4 separate regions of the Homo sapiens genome follow, and all the other regions are linked to region 1. The links come from fine-mapping of genetic effects on gene expression. A gene starts in region 1. Each other region holds a variant in brackets. All regions are shown on one strand. Distances are between the middles of the regions.

The links.
Region 2: its variant is fine-mapped to the expression of GPR135 in T cells (TOPMed, PIP above 0.99).
Region 3: its variant is fine-mapped to the expression of GPR135 in tibial artery (GTEx, PIP 0.95).
Region 4: its variant is fine-mapped to the expression of GPR135 in blood mononuclear cells (TOPMed, PIP above 0.99).

Annotation. Positions count from the first base shown.
Region 1 is chr14:59,462,963-59,468,115 of GRCh38, forward strand. GPR135 (G protein-coupled receptor 135) reads right to left here and starts at 2,418. Exons shown (of 1, transcript NM_022571.6): 1 at 1-2,418. The coding sequence starts at 2,264. The coding sequence ends at 780. It also overlaps a transcript of L3HYPDH not described here. RefSeq lists a silencer at 1,949-2,488.
Region 2 is chr14:59,511,730-59,516,882 of GRCh38, forward strand. CCDC175 (coiled-coil domain containing 175) reads right to left here. Exons shown (of 20, transcript NM_001164399.2): 18 at 31-74. Among named protein-coding and RNA genes, the nearest start is that of JKAMP, 30 kb to the left of the region's middle. The variant G/A (reference allele first, on the strand shown) is at 2,304.
Region 3 is chr14:59,677,969-59,683,121 of GRCh38, forward strand. The region is part of intron 3 of RTN1 (reticulon 1); the gene reads right to left. Among named protein-coding and RNA genes, the nearest start is that of MIR5586, 34 kb to the left of the region's middle. The variant A/G (reference allele first, on the strand shown) is at 2,206.
Region 4 is chr14:59,441,889-59,447,041 of GRCh38, forward strand. No RefSeq gene overlaps it. Among named protein-coding and RNA genes, the nearest start is that of GPR135, 21 kb to the right of the region's middle. The variant A/G (reference allele first, on the strand shown) is at 2,848.

The sequences.
Region 1 (5,153 bases):
AACAGGTTAGAGTAAGGATAAAACTTCAAAGTTTTCCAAGGAAGATCATTTTGGAGGTATGACGCGGGTGGAAGGAATGTTAATTTTTACATATAATCTTGGAAAACATTTAAAAGACACATTTCTTTATGTTCATACTTCTATTTGTCCTTCAGATGGTTGAATTTTATCTAATAATAACCAGCTTTTCAAAATCCTAAAATGATTTTAAATGGGTTATGAATTAAAAATTTTCCACAAAGGTTATTAGGGGGTGGGGTGAGGAGGTGCACCAATGTGTGTAAGGATAAGACTTTTCCACTTGCAATCTAAGCACCCAAAGCATGTCAGAGGTGCAAGCTCTAGAAGCTAAAGTTTTGTTGGATGGTAGCGATTTAGAGGGGCTTTCAAGCAGCTCTGAAGGTCTCCATTCATTCCTGAAATTCTGTGTAGTTGAACAATACTGGTTGCATTCAATGTTTTGTTTGTTTCACAGTGTGGTCCTATAATATGAGCTTTTCAGTTATAGTGAATGTTATTTTTGTCATTTTTGGCACTTACAGTTCACAATGCTTGGTTATGTGGTTTAAGATTGTTTTAATTTTTGCATTTTACATTCCTTTTGGCACTTTTGAAGAAGGGACATTGTCTTTTATGTTGTTTGGGGAAAGTGGTAAGCCTCCCCCGTCTCTAGCTTTAAATGTTTGGCTTTATGAAATCCACAACTCTCCCCCAGAATCTTCCATCATTAAATAATGCGAGTGGAAATTTGCCTTCATAAGCTGGCCATTCCAACCGTCTTAGAGGCTGGTATCCCCAGCTTCGGATTTAGGCTGTTTGGTCACTGCCGTCACCGGCTCTGGTGGTCCCTCTCGGCAGAAAAGTACAACTGGATTTTTGCGGGCCCACATGGCCACGTCCCCTGCCACTCCGCTGGCCGGGTTGGAAGAGGACATCCTGTTGCAGGCCCCCAGCCGGTTGGCATAGCGGTTTCGAAGGCGACTGCGGCTTCTGGCTTGCAGACCCGGGCCCTGGCTGGGCAGGAAAGCGTCCACATTCCTAGTCCGGTAGCCCTCCTCGCGGTTGCGCCCTAGGAGCATCGAAATGTTGGGATTGCGGATGGCGTAGATGACAGGGTTGATGGCCCCATTGGCCCAGGTCAGCCAGACGGCCACCACGCTGAGGAGCGAGGGGGCCTGCATGGTCTGGGCCTGCCGGGCGGCGGCCAGCAGCACCAGGAAGCAGTAGGGCCCCCAGCAGCAGATGACGAAGACGATCATGATGAGGACGGTGGTGGCCGTGCGCACCTCGCTGAAGAAGCGCAGCACGCGCGCGTAGGTGTTCACCGGCCGCACGCGCACGTCCGACAGGCGCACCGTCTTGCAGATGTGGTAGTGGCAGAAGCACATGAGCAGGAAGGGCAGCAGGTAGCAGGCCACCACCAGCCCCACGCTGAAGGCCGCGCCCAGCTGCGCGGGGTCCGGGGAGGTCCGGTAGAGGCAGCCGTGGAAGCTCTGCGCCGCCGCGAGTTCCCGGGGCGCCCCGAGCAGCTCCCAGGGCAAGGAGAAGCCCAGGGCCGTCAGCCAGGCGCCCGCCAGCAGCTGCAGCGCGCGGCGGCGGCCGATCTTCTCCCGCGGCGGCCGCACGATAGCGCAGTAACGGTCCAACGAGATGAGCGCCACGCTGAGCGTGGACACGATGCCGAAGCACGAGCTGAAGAAGCGGCTGGCGGCGCAGAAGCCGCGCCAGGGCCCCGCGGCGGCGGCAGGCGCCGAACCCCCGGGCGGAGTGAAGAGGTCCAGGAAGGCGGCGGGCAGGCAGAGCAGCGCCGTGAGCAGATCCGATAGGGACAGCGACAGGATGAAGGCGTTGGTGACGGTGCGGAGCTGCCGGTGCTTCACAATCACCCCCATCACCGCGCAGTTGCCAAGGCTAGACAGCAGGAAGATGAGCAGGAGGACGAGCGCCTGGGCCGCCACTGCAGCTCCGTGCGACAGCAGCGGCGCCGCCTCCGGGCCTAGCGGCCGCCTCACCGCCGCCCCCGCCTCCCGCGCTGCCCCGGACCCGCCAAGGCCGCCGCCACCGGGAGCGGCAGCTGTGCCGCCTCCGCTTGCGTCGCTCAGGTTCCCCAGCGCCGCGGTCGCCACGGTGCTGAAGGAGAGCACGGCCGCCGTGGCCGCGGAGGAAGTCCCGCCAGGTGGGCCGGCCGCGGAGGGGGCGCCGGAGTGCTGGCTGCCCAGTAAGGCCATGCTCGCTGGTGGGCGGGGCGGCTGCGGCTCCTCCATGGGGCCCAGTGGCGGCCGCGGATCTCCTCATCCCGCACCGGGGGCGGCGGCCGCTAGGTCGGAGTGGTGGCTCGGGGCCGGGGGCTAGCGGCCGCCGCGGGGAGCTGGGCTCGGCCGGAGGGGTGGCGGTCGCTGGGGACCTGGCGGAGCCTTTGACGTGGGTTCCAGCGTTGCCGAGGGAACCGCGTGTTTACGCAGGAGCGCGGGGCGGGACGGCAGCCCAGTACCCGCTGCAAAGCCGACCCGCGACACCGCCACTCCGGAGGTTACCGGCCCGGGTGTTCGGGTTTCCGAGAGTGCCAGGTCGACCTCCTGAGGGACCAATGTCCGGCCAGATAAAGTGCCGACTGGCATGCAAACAAATGACCAGATTCAACGAAAGTTCACTCTTGCTCTCTTTTGTAGGGTACAAATGTTCTACAGGCAGGCCTTTTGGGGAGTGGTGGGGGGGGCACTCTGCTTCCTGTGGGTGCTTTTGGTATATACAGGTAGGAAAGGAATCTAGAAAGTGAAGTGAAAGAAAAATCCAGAAGTCTACATCCAGACATCTTAAACTTGAGAAGCAGACTAATTTAAACCAGTAATTCTCAAACTTGAGCTAACAGAATTCACATAGAGGGCGTGTTAAAATACAAGTGACGAGGTCTGAACCCCAGCGTTTCGAATATGTCTGGGGAAGTACCCAAGAATTTGTATCTCTAACGGGTTCGCGGGTGGTGATGATGATGCTGGTCCCAGGACCACACTTACAGAAGCACTGATGTCAAGAGTTTCATAAAATGCAGATTCCCAGGCTGACAGAATTACTAAGGATGGGCCCATGACTCTAAACCCCGTAGGTGATTCTGATACAGGTGCTCTGAGGAGCTAGGATAGTTCCTTTAGATGTTACTTCATTTCCAAGGGCCTGGACCTCAGGCCCCTACTGGCTGATAAATGGGGGGAGAGGGATTGGTGCCTTGCCCTGCTAGCAGCCTTCATCTGTTCTCAGGAATGGGGTATGTTTTGAGTCTAAGGTGCTGCCAGCCTGGCAATCACCACAGATGCAGCTCCAGGTACCTGGCTGGGAGATACGGGGAAAAGAAAGGCAGGGCTACCCAGGGAAGTTGCATCTCAAGTTTCTGGGCATGGCCTCTAATGGGGAAAAGTGTGATAAACCCTCAGGTTAACTAACCCTGGGCTCTTCGCTAAAGCAGTGGTTCACAGAGTATGGACATTGGACCAGCAGCATCAACATCCCCTGGAAACCTTGAGAAATACAAATTATCAGGCCTACAGTGCATAGGATACCCCTGATCTACTGAAACTCCTGTGGTGGGGCCCAGGCACCTATGTTTTAACAAGCCCTCCCAGTGATTCTGATGCACAAATTTGAGAAACACTGCTCTAAAGAATGACTAGTATATTTGTAGATCTTAGAATCAATGGTATTAGTATTGGAGTGCTTATTTCATTCAGAAAAAATATCCTACAGGAAATTTACAGTATAAATAGAAGAACGTTTAAGGTGGCAAACCAAAACTGGGTTTGTCAGCCTAAGCGTCATGGACTTTTGGGCCAGATAATTCTTTATTGCAGGGGCCATCTATACATTGTATGATGTTCAGCAGCATCCCTAGTTCCTACCTACGAGATGCCAGTAGCACCTCTCCCAGCTGTGACAACTAAAACTGTCTTCAGATATTGCCAAATATCCTCTTGGGAGCAGTCAATGCCAGCTTAATCTAGACTGATTTTGTCTTAATTTTGTCAATCAAAGCAAAAATATAATTATCATACATTAATTTATTTGGCAAACACAATCTTCTCAGATTGTGCTTAGTTTTAGGAAACAACATATAAGATAGGAAACCCAGCCCAAATAAGCTTAAGCCACCGGCCAACACAGTATATTACAGTGTGCTAAATATTGTCTTAAAAATATGTGAGTGAAATTATTTGTCTTCCTGACAAAGACTTTGTACAAGAGGTGACATTAGACTTTTTAAAAAAAGAAGAAAGGGAAAGAACATTTGATGAATGTGCAAAGTCTGGAGGTTAGTGTTGAAGTGAGCAGTGTCTGAATTCTAGGATATTGGAGATGGGGAGTGAAGAAGGAAATAAATGATCAAAGTTTATTGGGGCTACCTTATGATGGGCCTTGTAGGCCATGCTCTGGAGACTGAACTTCATCAGGGGAGGAGGGGCTAATAGCATAAGGGAGGGCCGTGAGCAAGTGCATGGTTCAGAAGGACCAGAAGGACTGCACTCTTCTGCTTCCTTCCTTCCTCATCTTTCTCAGTGTCCTCTCCTCTGCCAGTTCATCCTCTTCCACCTGCCTTTACATGCTGGAGTTCATCAAAGCCCTGTTCTCAGCTCCTCTGGACTCCCCCCTCGGCCCCATCTCACTCACATCCAGGACTTCAAAGATAATCTATATATTCATTACTCAAATTATGTCTGTGGCCCCAACCTACATGTCCTGCTACTTGGCATCTCTCTCCTTGATGTGCCAGTGGCACATCAAATGGGTGCATGATCTTCTTCCTACTTCCCCGGTAAAACTTGGTCTTCAATACTCTGTATCTCAGAATATGGTAGAACCATCCTTCTAGCTTTTAAGCCAAAAACTTAAGAGTTTTCCTTGATGAATCCCTCCTCCTTACCACCAGTCCACATCCAATTCATCAACCAAGACCTATGGATTTTAGTTGCGGACTATCTTTGCATCCATTCATCTCCTCCATCCTGAATCTTGGCTCTCATCCTCTCTTTGGACTACTGTTGTCACTGTTGTCCTAACCGGTCTTCCCACATCCAGTTCCTACATTGTAGGCAGCTAGGCATAATGCTCTTAAAAAAATTCTTCATGCCACTTACTTATTTAAACTCTTCTAATTAGGCCAGTGT
Region 2 (5,153 bases), 49 kb after region 1:
ATGGAGGCAACAGACACACGCAAAACTCACCTTAACTGTGGTCTGAAATTCAGCCCACAAATCCTTATATTGTGCTAAAATAAAGATTTAAAAAATACAATGGTTACTGACACAATCTGAACATTTTAATAAAAGTCGTGTTATTCATTTTTGTTTTTTCAAAAATTATTTTTATCTAAAAATGTCTAGTTCCAAAATGACAGAATAACTGAATTGGACCTGCCCTCCCACTGCAAACAAATAGAAGAAAGAAGCAAAACATATGAAAGAAATGTTTTCAGATGTTGAAGAATGGGCAGCCCAGGACTGTGACACCTGGAAGAGAAACAAAGGAGGTGGGTCCTGCAATCACCCAGCTTTCCACTGGGGGGCACTTTCCAGACCACAGCACTGGCACAGCAGGGTGGTCTTAACACAGACACAAAAAGATTAGCAAACTGAATCCAGCAATAGACAAGAACAATAAAAGCTTTTGAACAAGTGGGCTTTATGCTAAGAATGGGAGCTTGGTTTAAAAGTCAGACTCAATCAGTGCAACTTACCACACGAACAGCATAAAGGAGTAATACTAGCTGAGCATCTCAGTGGCTGTCTGAGCAGCTGAGGCCAGTCACAAAGGCACTCTGTGCCCGCATGACTGACCATCTTCCCGCCCCATAAGTACTCTGGACACTCAAGCCTGGGTGAGCCTCCCTGGTTGGCAACACTTTGTATGTGGAGTCACACGTTGTTGGGGAAATTAAGTGCATCCCTGAGAAGGTTGCTCCAGATTTCCTTCATACTTTGCCCTCTGTGCCTTTTCCCTTTGCTGATTTTACTCTATCTTTCACTGGAATAACAATAACCATAACAATTTTTGAGTCCTGTGAATCATTTTAGCTAATCATTAAGCCTAAGGGTAGTCCTGGGATACCTGATACTACACTACAGCTGCACAATTTTTTTGAGATAAAGACCTAAATAAATGGAGATAAATACTATATTCTTGGATTAGAAAATATAATTTCATTAAAAAGTCTATTCTTCCAACATTGACTTATAGATTCAACACAAACCCAATTAAGATCTCAGCAGGGGTGTGTGTGTGTGTGTGTGTGTGTGTGTGTGTGTGTGTGTGTAGATTAGGTGATTCTAAAATGTATATGGAAATCAAAGAATTTAGAATAGTGAAAATAATTTTAAAAGACAAGCATACAGGTGAAGAATTCTATTACCTGATGTTCAGACTGCATGTGAAGCTATAGTAATTAAGACAGTGTGATATTGGTATAAAGTTAGGCATTTAGAATAAAGGAACAACCACATAAAATTGATTTTTGAAAAGTTGCTAGGGTAATACAATGGCAAAAGCATAGTCTTTTCAAAAATAGTACTGGAACAACTGGATGTGTGTAAGAGAAAACAATGAAATTCAAGCATTGCTTCACATCATATAAAAAAGTTCACTTGAGGGGGGTGGAGCCAAGATGGCCGAATAGGAACAGCTCCAGTCTACAGCTCCCAACGTCAGCGACGCAGAAGACGGGTGATTTCTGCATTTCCAACTGAGGTACTGGGTTCATCTCACTGGGGAGTGTCAGAAAGTGGGTGCAGGACAGTGGGTGCAGTGCACCGAGTGTGAGCCAAAGCAGGGGGAGGCACTGCCTCACCTGGGAAGTGGAAGGGGTCAGGGAATTCCCTTTCCTAGTCAAAGAAAGGGGTGATGGATGGCACCTGGAAAATCAAGTCACTCCCACCCCAATATGGTGCTTTTCCAACTGTCTTAGCAAACGGCACAGCAAGAGATTATATCCCGTGCCTGGCTTGGAGGGTCCTATGCCCACGGAGCCTCACTCATTGCTAGCACAGCAGTCTGAGATCAAACTGCAAGGCAGCAGCGAGGCTGGGGGAGGGGTGCCTGCCATTGCTGAGGCTTGACTAGGTAAACAAAGCAGCCTGGAAGCTCAAACTGGGTAGAGCCCACCGCAGCTCAAGGAGGCCTGCCTGCCTCTGTAGACTCCACCTCTGGGGGCAGGGCATTGCCAAACAAAAGGCAGCAGAATCCTCTGCAGATTTAAATGTCCCTGTCTGACAGCTTTGAAGAGAGTAGAGGTTCTCCTAGCACGCAGCTGGAGATCTGAGAATGGACAGACTGCCTCCTCAAGCACGTCCTTGACCCCCGAGTAGCGTAACTGGGAGGCACCTCCTAGTAGGGGCAGACTGACACCTCACATGGCCGGGTACTCCTCTGAGACAAAACTTCCAGAGGCATGATCAGGCAGCAACATTTGATGTTCACCAATATCCGCTGTTCTGCAGCCTCC[G/A]CTGCTGATACCCAGGCAAACGGGGTCTGGAGTGGACCTCCAGCAAACTCCAACAGACCTGCAGCTGAAGGTCCTGACTGTTAGAAGGAAAACTAAAAAACAGAAAGGACATCCACACCAAAACCCCATCTGTACGTCACCATCATCAAAGACCAAAGGTAGATAAAACCACAAAGATGGGGAAAAAACAGAGCAGAAAAACTGGAAATTCTAAAAATCAGAGTGCCTCTCTTCCTCCAAAGGAACGCAGCTCCTCACCAGCAATGGAACAAAGTTGGACAGAGAATGACTTTGATGAGTTGAGAGAAGAAGGCTTCAGACGATCAAACTACTCAGAGCTAAAGGTGGAAGTTCAAACCCATGTCAAAGAAGTTAAAAACCTTGAAAAAAAATTAGACGAATGGCTAACTAGAATAACCAATGCGGAGAAGTCCTTAAAGGACCTGATGGAGCTGAAAAACAAGGCACGAGAACTACATGACAAATGCATAAGCCTCAGTAGCCGATTAGATCAACTGGAAGAAAGGCTATCAGTGATGGAAGATCAAATGAATGAAATGAAGCGAGAAGAGAAGTTTAGAGAAAAAAGAATAAAAAGAAATGAACAAAGCCTCCAAGAAATATGGGAGTATGTGAAAAGACCAAATCTACGTCTGATTGGTGTACCTGAAAGTGACAGGGAGAATGGAACCAAGTTGGAAAACACTCTGCAGGATATCATACAGGAGAACTTCCCCAATCTAGCAAGGCAGGCCAACATTCAAATTCAGGAAATACAGAGAATGCCACAAAGATACTCCTCCAGAAGAGCAACTCCAAGACACATAATTGTCAGATTCACCAAAGTTGAAATGAAGGAAAAAATGTTAAGGGCAGCCAGAGAGAAAGGTCGGGTTACCCACAAAGGGAAGCCCAGCAGACTAACAGCTGACCTCTCAGCAGAAACACTACAAGCCAGAAGAGAGTGGGGGCCAATATTCAACATTCTTAAAGAAAAGAATTTTCAACCCAGAATTTAATATCCAGCCAAACTAAGCTTCATAAATGAAGGAGAAATAAAATCCTTTATAGACAAGCAAATGATGAGAGATTTTGTCACCACCAGGCCTGCCCTACAAGAGCTCCTGAAGGAAGCACTAAACATGGAAAGGAACAACTGGTACCAGCCACTGAAAAAGCATGCCAAATTGTAAAGACCATTGAGGCTAGGAAGAAACTGCATCCACTAACAAGCAAAATAACCAGCTAACATCATAATGGCAGGATCAAATTCACACATAACAATATTAGCCTTAAATGTAAATGGGCTAAATGCTCCAATTAAAAGACACAGACTGGCAAATTGGATAAAGAGTTAAGACCCATCAGTGTGCTGTATTCAGGAGACCCATCTCACATGCAGAGACACATATAGGCTCAAAATAAAGGGATGGAGGAAGATCTACCAAACAAATGGAAAACAAAAAAAGGCAGGGGTTGCAATCCTAGTCTCTCATAAAACAGACTTTAAACCAACAAAGATCAAAAGAGACAAAGAAGGCCATTACATAATGGTAAAGGGATCAATTCAACAAGAAGAGCTAACTATCCTAAATATATATGCACCCAATACAGGAGCACCCAGATTCATAAAGCAAGTCCTTAGAGACCTGGAAAGAGACTTAGACTCCCACACAATAATAATGGGATACTTTAACACCCCACTGTCAACATTAGACAGATCAATGAGACAGAAAGTTAGCAAGAATATCCAGGAATTGAACTCAGCTCTGCACCAAGCAGACCTAACAGACATCTACAGAATTCTCCACGCCAAATCAACAGAATATACATTCTTCTCAGCACCACACCGCACTTATTCCAAAATTGACCACATAGTTGGAACTAAAGCACTCCTCAGCAAATGTAAAAGAACAGAAATTATAACAAACTGTCTCTCAGAACACAGTGCAATCAAACTAGAACTCAGGATTAAGAAACTCACTCAAAATCGCTCAACTACTTGGAAACTGAACAACCTGCTCCTGAATGACTACTGGGTACATAACGAAATGAAGGCAGAAATAAAGATGTTCTTTGAAACCAATGAGAACAAAGACACGACATACCAGAATCTCTGGGACACATTCAAAGCAGTATGTAGAGGGAAAATTATAGCACTAAATGCCCACAAGAGAAAGCAGGAAAGATCTAAAATTGACACCCTAACATCACAATTAAAAGAACTAGAGAAGCAAGAGCAAACACATTCAAAAGCTAGCAGAAGGTGAGAAATAACTAAGATCAGAGCAGAACTGAAGGAAATAGAGACTCAAAAAAACCTTCAAAAAAATCAATGAATCCAGGAGCTGGTTTTTTGAAAAGATCAACAAAATCGATAGATTGCTAGCAAGGCTAATAAAGAAGAAAAGAGAGAAGAATCAAATAGACGCAATAAAAAATGATAACTGGGATATCACCACCGATCCCACAGAAATACAAACTACCATCAGAGAATACTATAAACATCTCTATGCAAATAAGCTAGAAAATCTAGAATAAATGGATAAATTCCTCGACACATACACCCTCCGAAGACTAAACCAGGAAGAAGTTGAATCTCTGAATAGACCAATAACAGGCTCTGAAATTGAAGCAATAATTAATAGCTTACCAACCAAAAAAAGTCCAGGACCAGATGGATTCCCAGCCGAATTCTACCAGAGGTACAAGGAGGAGCTGGTACCATTCCTTCTGAAACTATTCCAATCAATAGAAAAAGAGGGAATCCTCCCTAACTCATTTTATGAGGCCAGCATCATCCTGATACCAAAGCCTAGCAGAGACACAACAAAAAAAGAGAATTTTAGA
Region 3 (5,153 bases), 220 kb after region 1:
TTCTTTTCTCACTCCCAGGATCTTGGCATCTAAATGCTATTCTAGGCATTTTAGAAAAATAAATAGTCAAAGCTATTTACAACAATGACTACCACGCTGTGGCCTGAGATGGTGAGTTTCACTTGAATTGCCAAGAAGGGAACAAGGGCGTCATATAAACCCTGGAAAACAAGCCCAGGGACAAGTCCTGTTCTGGGGTCTGGAGGATTTGGAAGGCTGCCAAAGCTTAGGCAGTGGTGGTAGGGGTGCGTGGGGAATGTGAAAAGGGGTCTTTTCTCCAAAGTTTTATTTAAGGGTTGAATGCTAATGCGAAAATGGCCTAGCTCAATCATTTTAGCTTCTCTGGCTTGGCCTTCCTAACAGCAAGAAAGAAGCCATCAATGAGCTACAAAACTTCATTTTTCCTACAGGCTGGAAGTGGTCTCTTTTTAATATATGTTCTGGATTCCACTGTCTGAGAGAAGAAAATTGATTTAAACATTTAGGTATCTACAGACAACTCTTACTGACTCAGGGGCCAGCGCACTCAGATTGCAGATTGCAGCATCCCTGTTTCTCTACCTTGTGCCTCATCCTTTGTGAATTCTGAAAGCTGGTTGCTTTTTCCCACATACTGAGGTCCAGCGTGGGCCACAGCACATGTTGGGACCTCAAGAGCTGAAGGTTCCTTGCTGGGCTCCCAGGCACAGAGGTACAGGCCTCCCTTCTCACTACTGCCCCTTCCTCAACCTCCACTGTCCCCATTGTCCTTAGGCTCACTGGTGTGGAAGAGACTTTAACAGACTGACATGCTGATCTTCAGGTTTCTCAAAGCGTGACCACAGACCACCTGCTTCAGAAGCACTGGGGGAGTTGGTTAAAAATGCAGCTTCCTGGGCCTCACCCCAGGCTTACTTAGTCAGAATGGGAAGCTGAGAATGTACATTTTTAACAGGCTATCCAGGTAATTCTTATGCACATATAAGTTTAAGGACCATAGATACAGGTGCAGGGTCTTAGTATCTAACTCTGTTGGGTTCTTGAGTTCAACTGTGATTTCAAAAAGCAAGGGATAGCATCTGAATCCTCTTGGCTCCTGGCAGAGTGACAGATTGGATTGTGAGGGATGACAGTGTCTGGAAAAGACTGGGAACAGGTAGGAATCTACTAGAAAAAGGCCAAGATAATCCCTAACTTGACATTTTGTATTGAGTATTATCATGTGTAATTGTTAGGGTGGCTTGGGTATGAATTAGAGAAGTATTCTCAATTTCCCTCTTAAGCATCAGAAGTTGCACAGGTGCTCTGAAATGAAACAATAGTACAGCCCTCTCTGCTAAATTGAGTTATCTATTAAACAAACAGAGCCACCAATGATAACCCATACACCCTTTGACTTAGGTTTCATCTTTACCATTGTATCAATGTTTGTAAAATAAGGCTAGAGACTGGAGCTCTAACTTTTCTCAATCCAGACTCTACCTCTCTCCAGCTAAGACCATGAGGTCTTTATTTCTTCTCTATGCCTTAATTTCCCCAACTGTGGGATGAATCTGCTTATAGTACTAGTCATAGGTACCTTTTAATGGTTATTAAAAAGGGTTGAACAGTAAAACAGCAGAGTACAAAACAGGTGTTATATTAGTAATCACTCTTAATAATTTCATTGTTAATCATTGTCACTGCAAAAATTAACAGTGACCTGACCTATGAGAAGAAGCTGAACTGTTTAGCTCAAATGAAGTCTGGGGATGACTTCTGGATTTAAGTTATTCACACTCAACCTATCACTTATTGCCACAGACACTTCAAAGTTCACAGTTCTCTGAAATATCATAATTTTCCAGAGCTTCCATACAGACTTGCATATAATTTTCCAGAGCTTCCATACAGAACAATTTGAACCTTGCAAATTGTTCTCATTTTATCTTAGGTCTAACAGGTTGGGGGTTGGGGTTTGTTTTTCTTTTTTAAAAAAATAGAACTTCTTAAAAACCAGGTCAGACTTATCAACAGAATCTAAATAAGGCTTGGTGTGTTGTGCAACCTCTACAACATAGCAACAATGAAATTTCACTGCAACTACTGCCCTCATACCCAATAGCATTTACAATACCTCTGACAAAGTGTGTCTATTTCCATGGTACCTGTTGCCATGGGAGCTGAGCAGTGCTCCTCCTAGAACAATCATGTTAGTAACATAGCTCTTAGCTATTGCCTTCTAAG[A/G]GCTTTGCTCTGGGGAAAAAATGGGATACTTTGTTTTTGAAAGAAGTCATAAACCTCCTCCAAAATAGACAATTGTTGCTTAATAGTACTAAAAAGGAAAGAGCAATCCCTCTTTCCCTCCATACCAGTTAGAGAAGCATTTCTTTCCTTCTGGAGAAGTATTTCCAAGTGAAACCATGCAAAATATAGGGAAGTGTGTTTTGAATTCCATTTTAAAGTTATTTTGCATAAAAGTTAAATAAAAAAGGAGATAGTTGTCATTGTTTACAATAAGTCTATCTTTACTAATTTGAGCTAATCAGTGAATTCACTGAATAAAATACAAGGTTAGTGCCAATTACCAATTTCCCAATGAACCCAAATACAAGGCTTTATAGCATGCTGTATTATTTAGTGTGTCCAGGCATTGCCACATAAAGCTGATGGAAGTATACATTTGTATCATCTTTCTAAAACACAATTTGGCAATAGGAGCCTTAAAATGTTCATATGTTTTAGTATGGTAATTCTATTTCCAGAAATCTATCTCAAGAAAATAATTTGAAATGAACACAAAGCCTTATAAACAAAGATACTCAATGGAGTGGTATTTAAAGTTTTTTAAAGCTAAAATCTAAATGTTGAACAATAGAGAATGTGTAACTAAGTAACTGAAAAGTGATAGGCATCTTTATGCTGTCATGAAAAACCATATTTATGAAGAGTTTTTAATAACTTGGGAAAATGTTTATCATATCAAGTTAAAAAAAGAAGTATATGAATTTATACAGCCAACATAACAAGTATACAAAAATATGTACAGACATAATAATAGAATATATGTTGAAATTTTGACAGTGGTGGTTGAATTATGGATTACAGTTATTTTGTCTTTTATAAGTTTCTATATTAATAGTATGTGTGTGTCTATCTCTATTTCCCATTTTCTCTTTTTTCTCTGCTTCTCTTTTCATCTAAGTGCTCATAAAACTACAAATCTATTTTATTATTTCCATATTTATTAAATACATCTTAGATTTCCACATGTACAAATCCAACAAAAACTTACCAAGCATTATTTGCTATGAACAATTCTTAATTTAGACATATGAACATATATTTCCTCTAACAAAAACAAGTCAGTTACTTTGCTTTTAATTTACTTGGTTCTTGATTCATATGTTTTATTCCATGAGTAACTGTCTCTCAATAGAAAATCATTCTGAATCTTAAAAAATGGTAATTTGAAAATGCCAAAATGTTCTCCATACTATTTTTTCAACCCTTTTTTCTAGCTCCAATAATGATTATCAATGATGAGTGTCATATCAATTCCATCCCCAAACCACACACTGCAGTAGGCACTGGGAAATAATGAATCTGGGTCACTAATACTCTGTATTCTCCACTGGGCTCTCTCACTCATGCTCATAGTTACCACCAGACATGGGTACCACCAGCTCTGAATCTCCAGCCTGGACCTAGCTCTTGAGTTCCAGGTTCAGGTCACTAACTGCTTACTAAATAAATCTTCCTGAATGTCTCCTAGGCATCTATGAACTCATTTTCCCTGTATCACCTTCTCAGATCGTGTTCCACTAAGCAGCCTTCTTTTTCATCCAGCTAATCACATCAGAACACAAGGATCATCCCAGATTCCTGTTTCTGTCTCACTGTTCCCTTCCCCTACCCTCAAACCTTGATTTCTACTTTCCAAATCTCTCCCAAATTCATCCTCTCAGCTGCTACAGCTTTAGTTTATAGTTTAGACCCTCGTCACTGCTCACTAGATTTTTTTAGTGATCTTCTAACTATCCTTTTGGTTACCAATCTGTCCTTCTCATGGAGAAATCTTTCTAAACATAAATCTGATCATGGTGCTACCCTTTAAGAAGCTAGAAGATCCAGCATGTGCTTTTTAATGTGGCTCCTTCCCATCTCCCCATCTTCATCTCCCATGGCTTTGCCACTGACATACTTTCCAGAAAAATGGAATTATCCTAATTCCCTGAAATCACATGCTATTTCACCCTTTGAGGACTTTACACACATTCTTTTCTTCAACTGAAATTCTCTCACCTGCTCCATATTTCAAGACTTAGCTCAAGGTTCAACTCCATTTGTCTTCCTTTCCTTATGGCATTACTATTTCTGGTACATCTTCTCATGATTATTTTATTTATTTGAACAAGATTTATTACACATCCAATGTTATACCATGCATTGTGCTGGCTGCTGGGTAGATAGACTACTTCTGCCCCCACAGAAGGATTCCACTTGCCTTTCCTGCTGTTGAAGTTTATACCTATGTCTCCTTTGAATTGCTAGAGGGCAGGAACTGACTCATGGTCATCTTTGTATCTCCCAGCTTCTGGCGAAAGTAGATGCCTAATAAATGTGTATTGAACAAATGGAAACAAACACAAGTGTTTCTGTTTACATTAACACAACAATAAAACTTAACAAGTATAAAAGTTACTCATAATTGCCAATGAGTAATGTTTCACACTTCATAAAACAGAAACAATTGTCTCTAGGGAACAAAATCAAATGTATACTTACAGAGCACATGGTTAAGCATTGCTAAAAAAGGCTTTGAGAATATGATTTGATAATTTATGAGTTTCCTCATAATTCTATGATTAAAGTGACTAATCATAGGGAATATAGTTAGTCCCACTGAACTCCACTCCAGAAACTGTGGTTCCTAATACGCATGCACTAATTTGCCTAATAGAAATCTTACTTATGAGGTTATTCAGCATTTAAGAGTGCAGGCAAAAGAAAGGAGAAGCAATTTGATTTGTACCTAGGGGAGTGACATTTTGGTTCTCGGTTAATATTTAAAAGTCAACTGACACAAGATATTTGGTGACATTCACTATGGTTGATGTATGAATCTGCCAATCCCATTTCTCCTTACTAACGCATTATTTTGGTCCTATACTGAAGCTTATTCCAGACTCAAC
Region 4 (5,153 bases), 21 kb before region 1:
CTCTTCTTCCTTCCCTCTCCTTATCTCTCTTTAGTCTCCTCTCTGTTCTTCCCTCCCTTCTGTTCTCCTTTCAAAGTAGATCACAGAAAGATGTTTAGGAGACATTCATTAGAGAATGTTCAGTAGCACAAAGACAGCAGAAAATGTATACAGTATCACATTTTCCATCCTTTCTTTTCTTTTTTAACTAAATCTTGAAATTCTGAAGTTATGTGACTTTGTATGTTTTAAAGGGGTGTTGTCGTGTTGCATGGGTGTCTTGTGTAACTAAAACAAACTCTCCACCCTGCCCTTGTCTTATTGTGCAGTTTCTTTCTTTTCATTTTTATTTTATTTACTTATTTTTTTGAGGCAGGGTCTCATCTCACTCTATTGCCCAGGCTGGAGTACAGTGGCATGATCTCGGCTCACTGCAGTCTCACCCTCCCTGGGCTCAAGCAATCCTCCCATCTCAGCCTCCTGAGTAGCTGGGACTACAGGCACACAACACCACACCCAACTTTTTTTTTTTTTTTTTCCATAGAGATGGGGTTTCACCATGTTGCCCAGGCTGGTCTTGAACTCCTGGACTCAAGCCATCTACTCACCTTGGCCTCCCGAAGTGCTGGGATTATGAGCATGTACCACCACACCCATCCCACAGTTTCTAAGAGAATCTGACCTTTTTCAGTTTCCAGAGACAGTCTTTGTGATTAATGATCTATCTGTGTTAGTCTAAGACTCCAAGACCAATCTCCCATTTCCAAAGACAGAACTGGGAGAAACTTCCCTTTCCTCTAAAGAGGTGATTCTGTATGTAAGCTAAGAGTAATCAAAGCAAGTTAGAATGCAATCTCCTTATATCCTTGTGAGAAGGATGGGAGAGGCTCCCCACACATGAAGGTAAACAAGAGGTTGCAGATTTTCACCATCGTTGACAGGGTGGGTGGTGTGCTGGCAGAGGGGAAGCAGTAGAGTTATTCAGGCTGAATGGACATCACTAAGGGAACCAGGTTCTTTCAGGTGCACAGGGGAAATCAGCAAGTTTCAGTGAATTCATGACAACTTGCCTCAGGCTGCTATGAAAGATGGCCACAAGGTCTCCTCTATTAGTGAGGCTAGCTAGGTGCAATCCTGACCTTTATTAAGAGTAACCAGACATTCGGGAGCTGGTTGCCTAAGTGCCCAGTAATCAGTTAAAAAGATGTCACAGAAAGGCAATTTCACTCTTACATTTCAAATATAATATTGATGCTAAGATTCAAACTGACTGGAAAAACAGAGATTCATCCAGCCGCAGAGGGCCTGATAGGGATAAAGGAGGCATGCTAAGGGATATAAATTACTACTTCTGTGAACTCCCAGAAAAGATTCTACCCTTGTTAATTTCATCCTGCCTCCTCCTCACTCTCAGATCCCCAAACCTCCACCCTTGTCTGCCTCTCTTCCCATCCATCCCTGCTGTGGGTTCTAATCCCAATCCTGCTGTTGTTTAGCTGGCTATATTATCTTGAACAAGTTATTTTTCTTTGAGTCTCAGCTTCTTCATCTATGCAATGGGGAATAGTAATATCCGGCCCATTGATATGAAATAATATGAGCAAAGGACTTCATGGAGGCAATCAATAAATGCTAGATACATCCCAAATCCCACTCTCTAAAGAATAGTCTTAGAAAACTAAAACTTTCAAATCACAAGCCTAACTCTATTTTCCAAATGTAAGAAATTTGCCTTATTTCTCAGTTGCCCTGATGCATTCCATCCATCATATAAAATAAATAATTTAAATGAAAAGTTAATTGAACGCTTAGAGCACTAAAAGTCATTCTAAGTTCTTCTTTCAGAGAATTAAAGATGCAAAAGGAAAAACTAATTTCAACATTATGCATTCAAAGAAATCTAAATTGTAACAAATTATTTATGTATATATTTAGTCTCTATTTCCTGTTCAAATACTTCAAATACATTTATAACCATTTGGAACTGTTATTACCAATATTTTAAGATGTTACACGATCCAATAGGAAATATTAACTGTTTTATTGTTAAAGAGTCATATTAAAATAATGCCATGACATATGTGTTATCAATTAGGCAATGAGCTACCAGTCAATATGTTTTGCCTTATAAAGAATTTTAGCCAAGATAAAGCTTGTTTGTTTGACTTAGAAAGCCAAAGTTGAACCTGTGTGATAACTCTTTGATCACATGTAATAACTGAAGCATAAGAAAATTGGTTTTTAGTATAATCACCAATCGTCCTCCCTTCCTCCCACTGAGAAAAAAATTCGGCCTTGTTTAAATACTCAGCTTAATTAAATTATGTATTTAATATATGATACATTTGTCTTGGCTTTGCATAGCACAAAAATGATAGATTAAATTTTTATGTGATAATTAAAGCCAAACTGTTATCAATAAGAATGTTAAAGCATTTAAAGATTATGAAAGTTTAATGTGTTCTGATGTGTTGCTTTTCAAAATCGTTGGGGCATTCCCGCTTTGAAAATTGTTGTACTTGATAATGGAGCCTCCTTGTGGGGAATCAGCAGTATTTCAGGCTTTCAAATTGCAGGTGAACTGCTGTTTGAATTTTCCCCCTTCACAACGGGAATAGATGTACTGTAGTAGTGCTATCAAGAAAATATGTACTTGTCGCCGGGTGCCGTGGCTCACGCCTGTAATCCCAGAACTTTGGGAGGCCGAGGCGGGTGGATCACGAGGTCAGAAGATCGGGACCATCCTGGCTAACACAATGAAACCCCATCTCTACTAAAAATACAAAAAATTAGCCGGGCGTGGTGGCGGGCGCCTGTAGTCCCAGCTACTGGGGGGGCTGAGGCAGGAGAATGGCGTGAACCCGGGAG[A/G]TGGAGCTTGCAGTGAGCTGAGATTGTGCCACTGCACTCCAGCCTGGGCGACAGAGTGAGACTCCGTCTCTAAATAAATAAATAAATACTAAAAAAAAAAAAAAAAAAGAAAAGAAAATATGTACTTGTCTCTGGACCCCTGACATCCAGAAACCAGCAGGAACTTAATGACTGCCAGAAAGTAAGGAAATATGTGCTGCCTTTCCTTTGGTTTGTCTGTAGTCCTGGTAGCTAAAGATAAACCAGTATTAATTTTTTTCAGTCAAATCGATTATGTTCTCTGGAGAGTAAACAAGTAGATTGACAAATTTTTTTACTTTTAAACTGCCCAATGTAGCTGGGCATGATGGTGCATGTCTGTAGTCCTAGCTACTTGGGAGGCCGAGGTGGGAAGATTGCTTGAGCCTAGGAGTTGGAGGTTACAGTGACCTATGATCCTGCACCTCACTCCAGTTTGGGTGAGAGCAAGACCCTGTCTCAAAAAACAAACCAACAATTAAACTGCCCCATGTAGTGGGGCCCTTGAACATATTGAATCAGGTAGATGCATGTTTTGCTTTAATCTCATGGAGTTATTCTCTACTTTTGACCAGAGAGCACATTCCTCTAAGAAAGATGTCAGGCCTCTGCTACGACCTCAGGTCCTCAGACCGACCAGCCCAAAAAACATCTCACCAATTTCAAATCCAGTAAGCGGCCTCTTTTTACTGTCTTCTCCAACCTCCCTCGCTATCCCTCAACCTCTTTCTTTCAATCTTGGCGCCACACTTCAATTTCTCCCTTCTCTTAATTTCAATTCCTTTCATTTTCTGGTAGAGACAAAGGAGACACGTTTTATCCGTGGACCCAAAACTCTGGCGCCAGTCACGGACTAAGGAAGGCAGCCTTCCCTTCGTGTTTAATCATTGCAGGGACACACCTCTCTGATTATTCACCCAGGTTTCAGAGGTGTCAGACCACGCAGGGACGACACCTCCCCTCCTTGCCAGGCCAAGCTAGATCCCAATTCTTCCTCAGCCTCTGCTCCTCCACCCTATAATCCTTTTATCATCTCCCCTCCTCACACCCGGTCCGGCTTACAGTTTCGTTCCGTAACTAGCCCTCCCCCTCCTGACCAGCAATTTACTCTTAAAAAGTCAGCTGGAGCCAAAGGCATAGTCAAGGTTAATGCTCCTTTTTCTTTATCCCAAATCAGATAGCGTTTAGGCTCTTTTTCATCAAATATAAAAATCCAGCCCAGTTCATGGCTCGTTTGGCATCAACCCTAAGACACTTTACAGCCCTAGACTCTAAAAGGTCAAAAGGCCGTCTTATTCTCAGTATACATTTTATTACCCAAATCTGCTCCCGACATTAAATAAAACTCCAAAAATTAAATTCTGGCCCTCAAACCCCACAACAGGACTTAATTAACCTTGCCTTCAAGGTGTACAATAATAGAGGCGGCTAAGTAGCAACATATTTCGGAGTTGCAATTCCTTGCCTCCACTGTGAGACAAACCCCAGCCACATCTCCAGCTCACAAGAACTTCCAAACGCCTAAACCACAGTGGCCAGGTGTTCCTCCAGAACCACCTCCCCCAGGAGCTTGCTACAAGTGCCAGAAATCTGGCCACCAGGCCAAGGAATGCCTGCAGTCCAGGATTCCTCCTAAGCCACGTCCCATCTGTGCAGGACCCCAATGGAAATCAGACTGTTCAACTCACCTGGCAGCCACTCCCAGAGCCCCTGGAACTCTGGCCCAAGGCTCTCTGACTCCTTCCCAGATCTTCTTGGCTTCTCTGACTCCTTCCCAGATCTTCTCGGCTTAGCGGCTGAAGACTGATGCCGCCCGATCGCCTTGGAAGCCCCGTAGACCATCACAGATGCTAGCTTTAAGTAACTCTCACAGTGGAGGGTAAGTCCGTCCCCTTCTTAATCAATATGGAGGCTACCCACTCCACATTACCTTCTTCTCAAGGGCCTGTTTCCCTTGCCTCCGTAACTGTTGTAGGTATTGACGGCCAGGCTTCTAAACCTTTAAAACTCCCCAACTCTGGTACAATTTAGACAATACTCTTTTAAGCACTCCTTTTAGTTTTCCCCACCTGCCCAGTTCCCTTATTAGGCTGAGACACTTTAACTAAATTATCTGCTTCCCTGACTATTCCTGGACTACAGCCGCATCTCATTGACGCCCTTCTTCCCAATCCAAAGCCTCCTTTGCATCCTCCTCTTGTATCCCCCACCTTAACCCCCAAGTATAGGATACCTCTACTCCCTCCTTGGTGACCGATCATTCCCCTTACCATCTCATTAAAACCTAA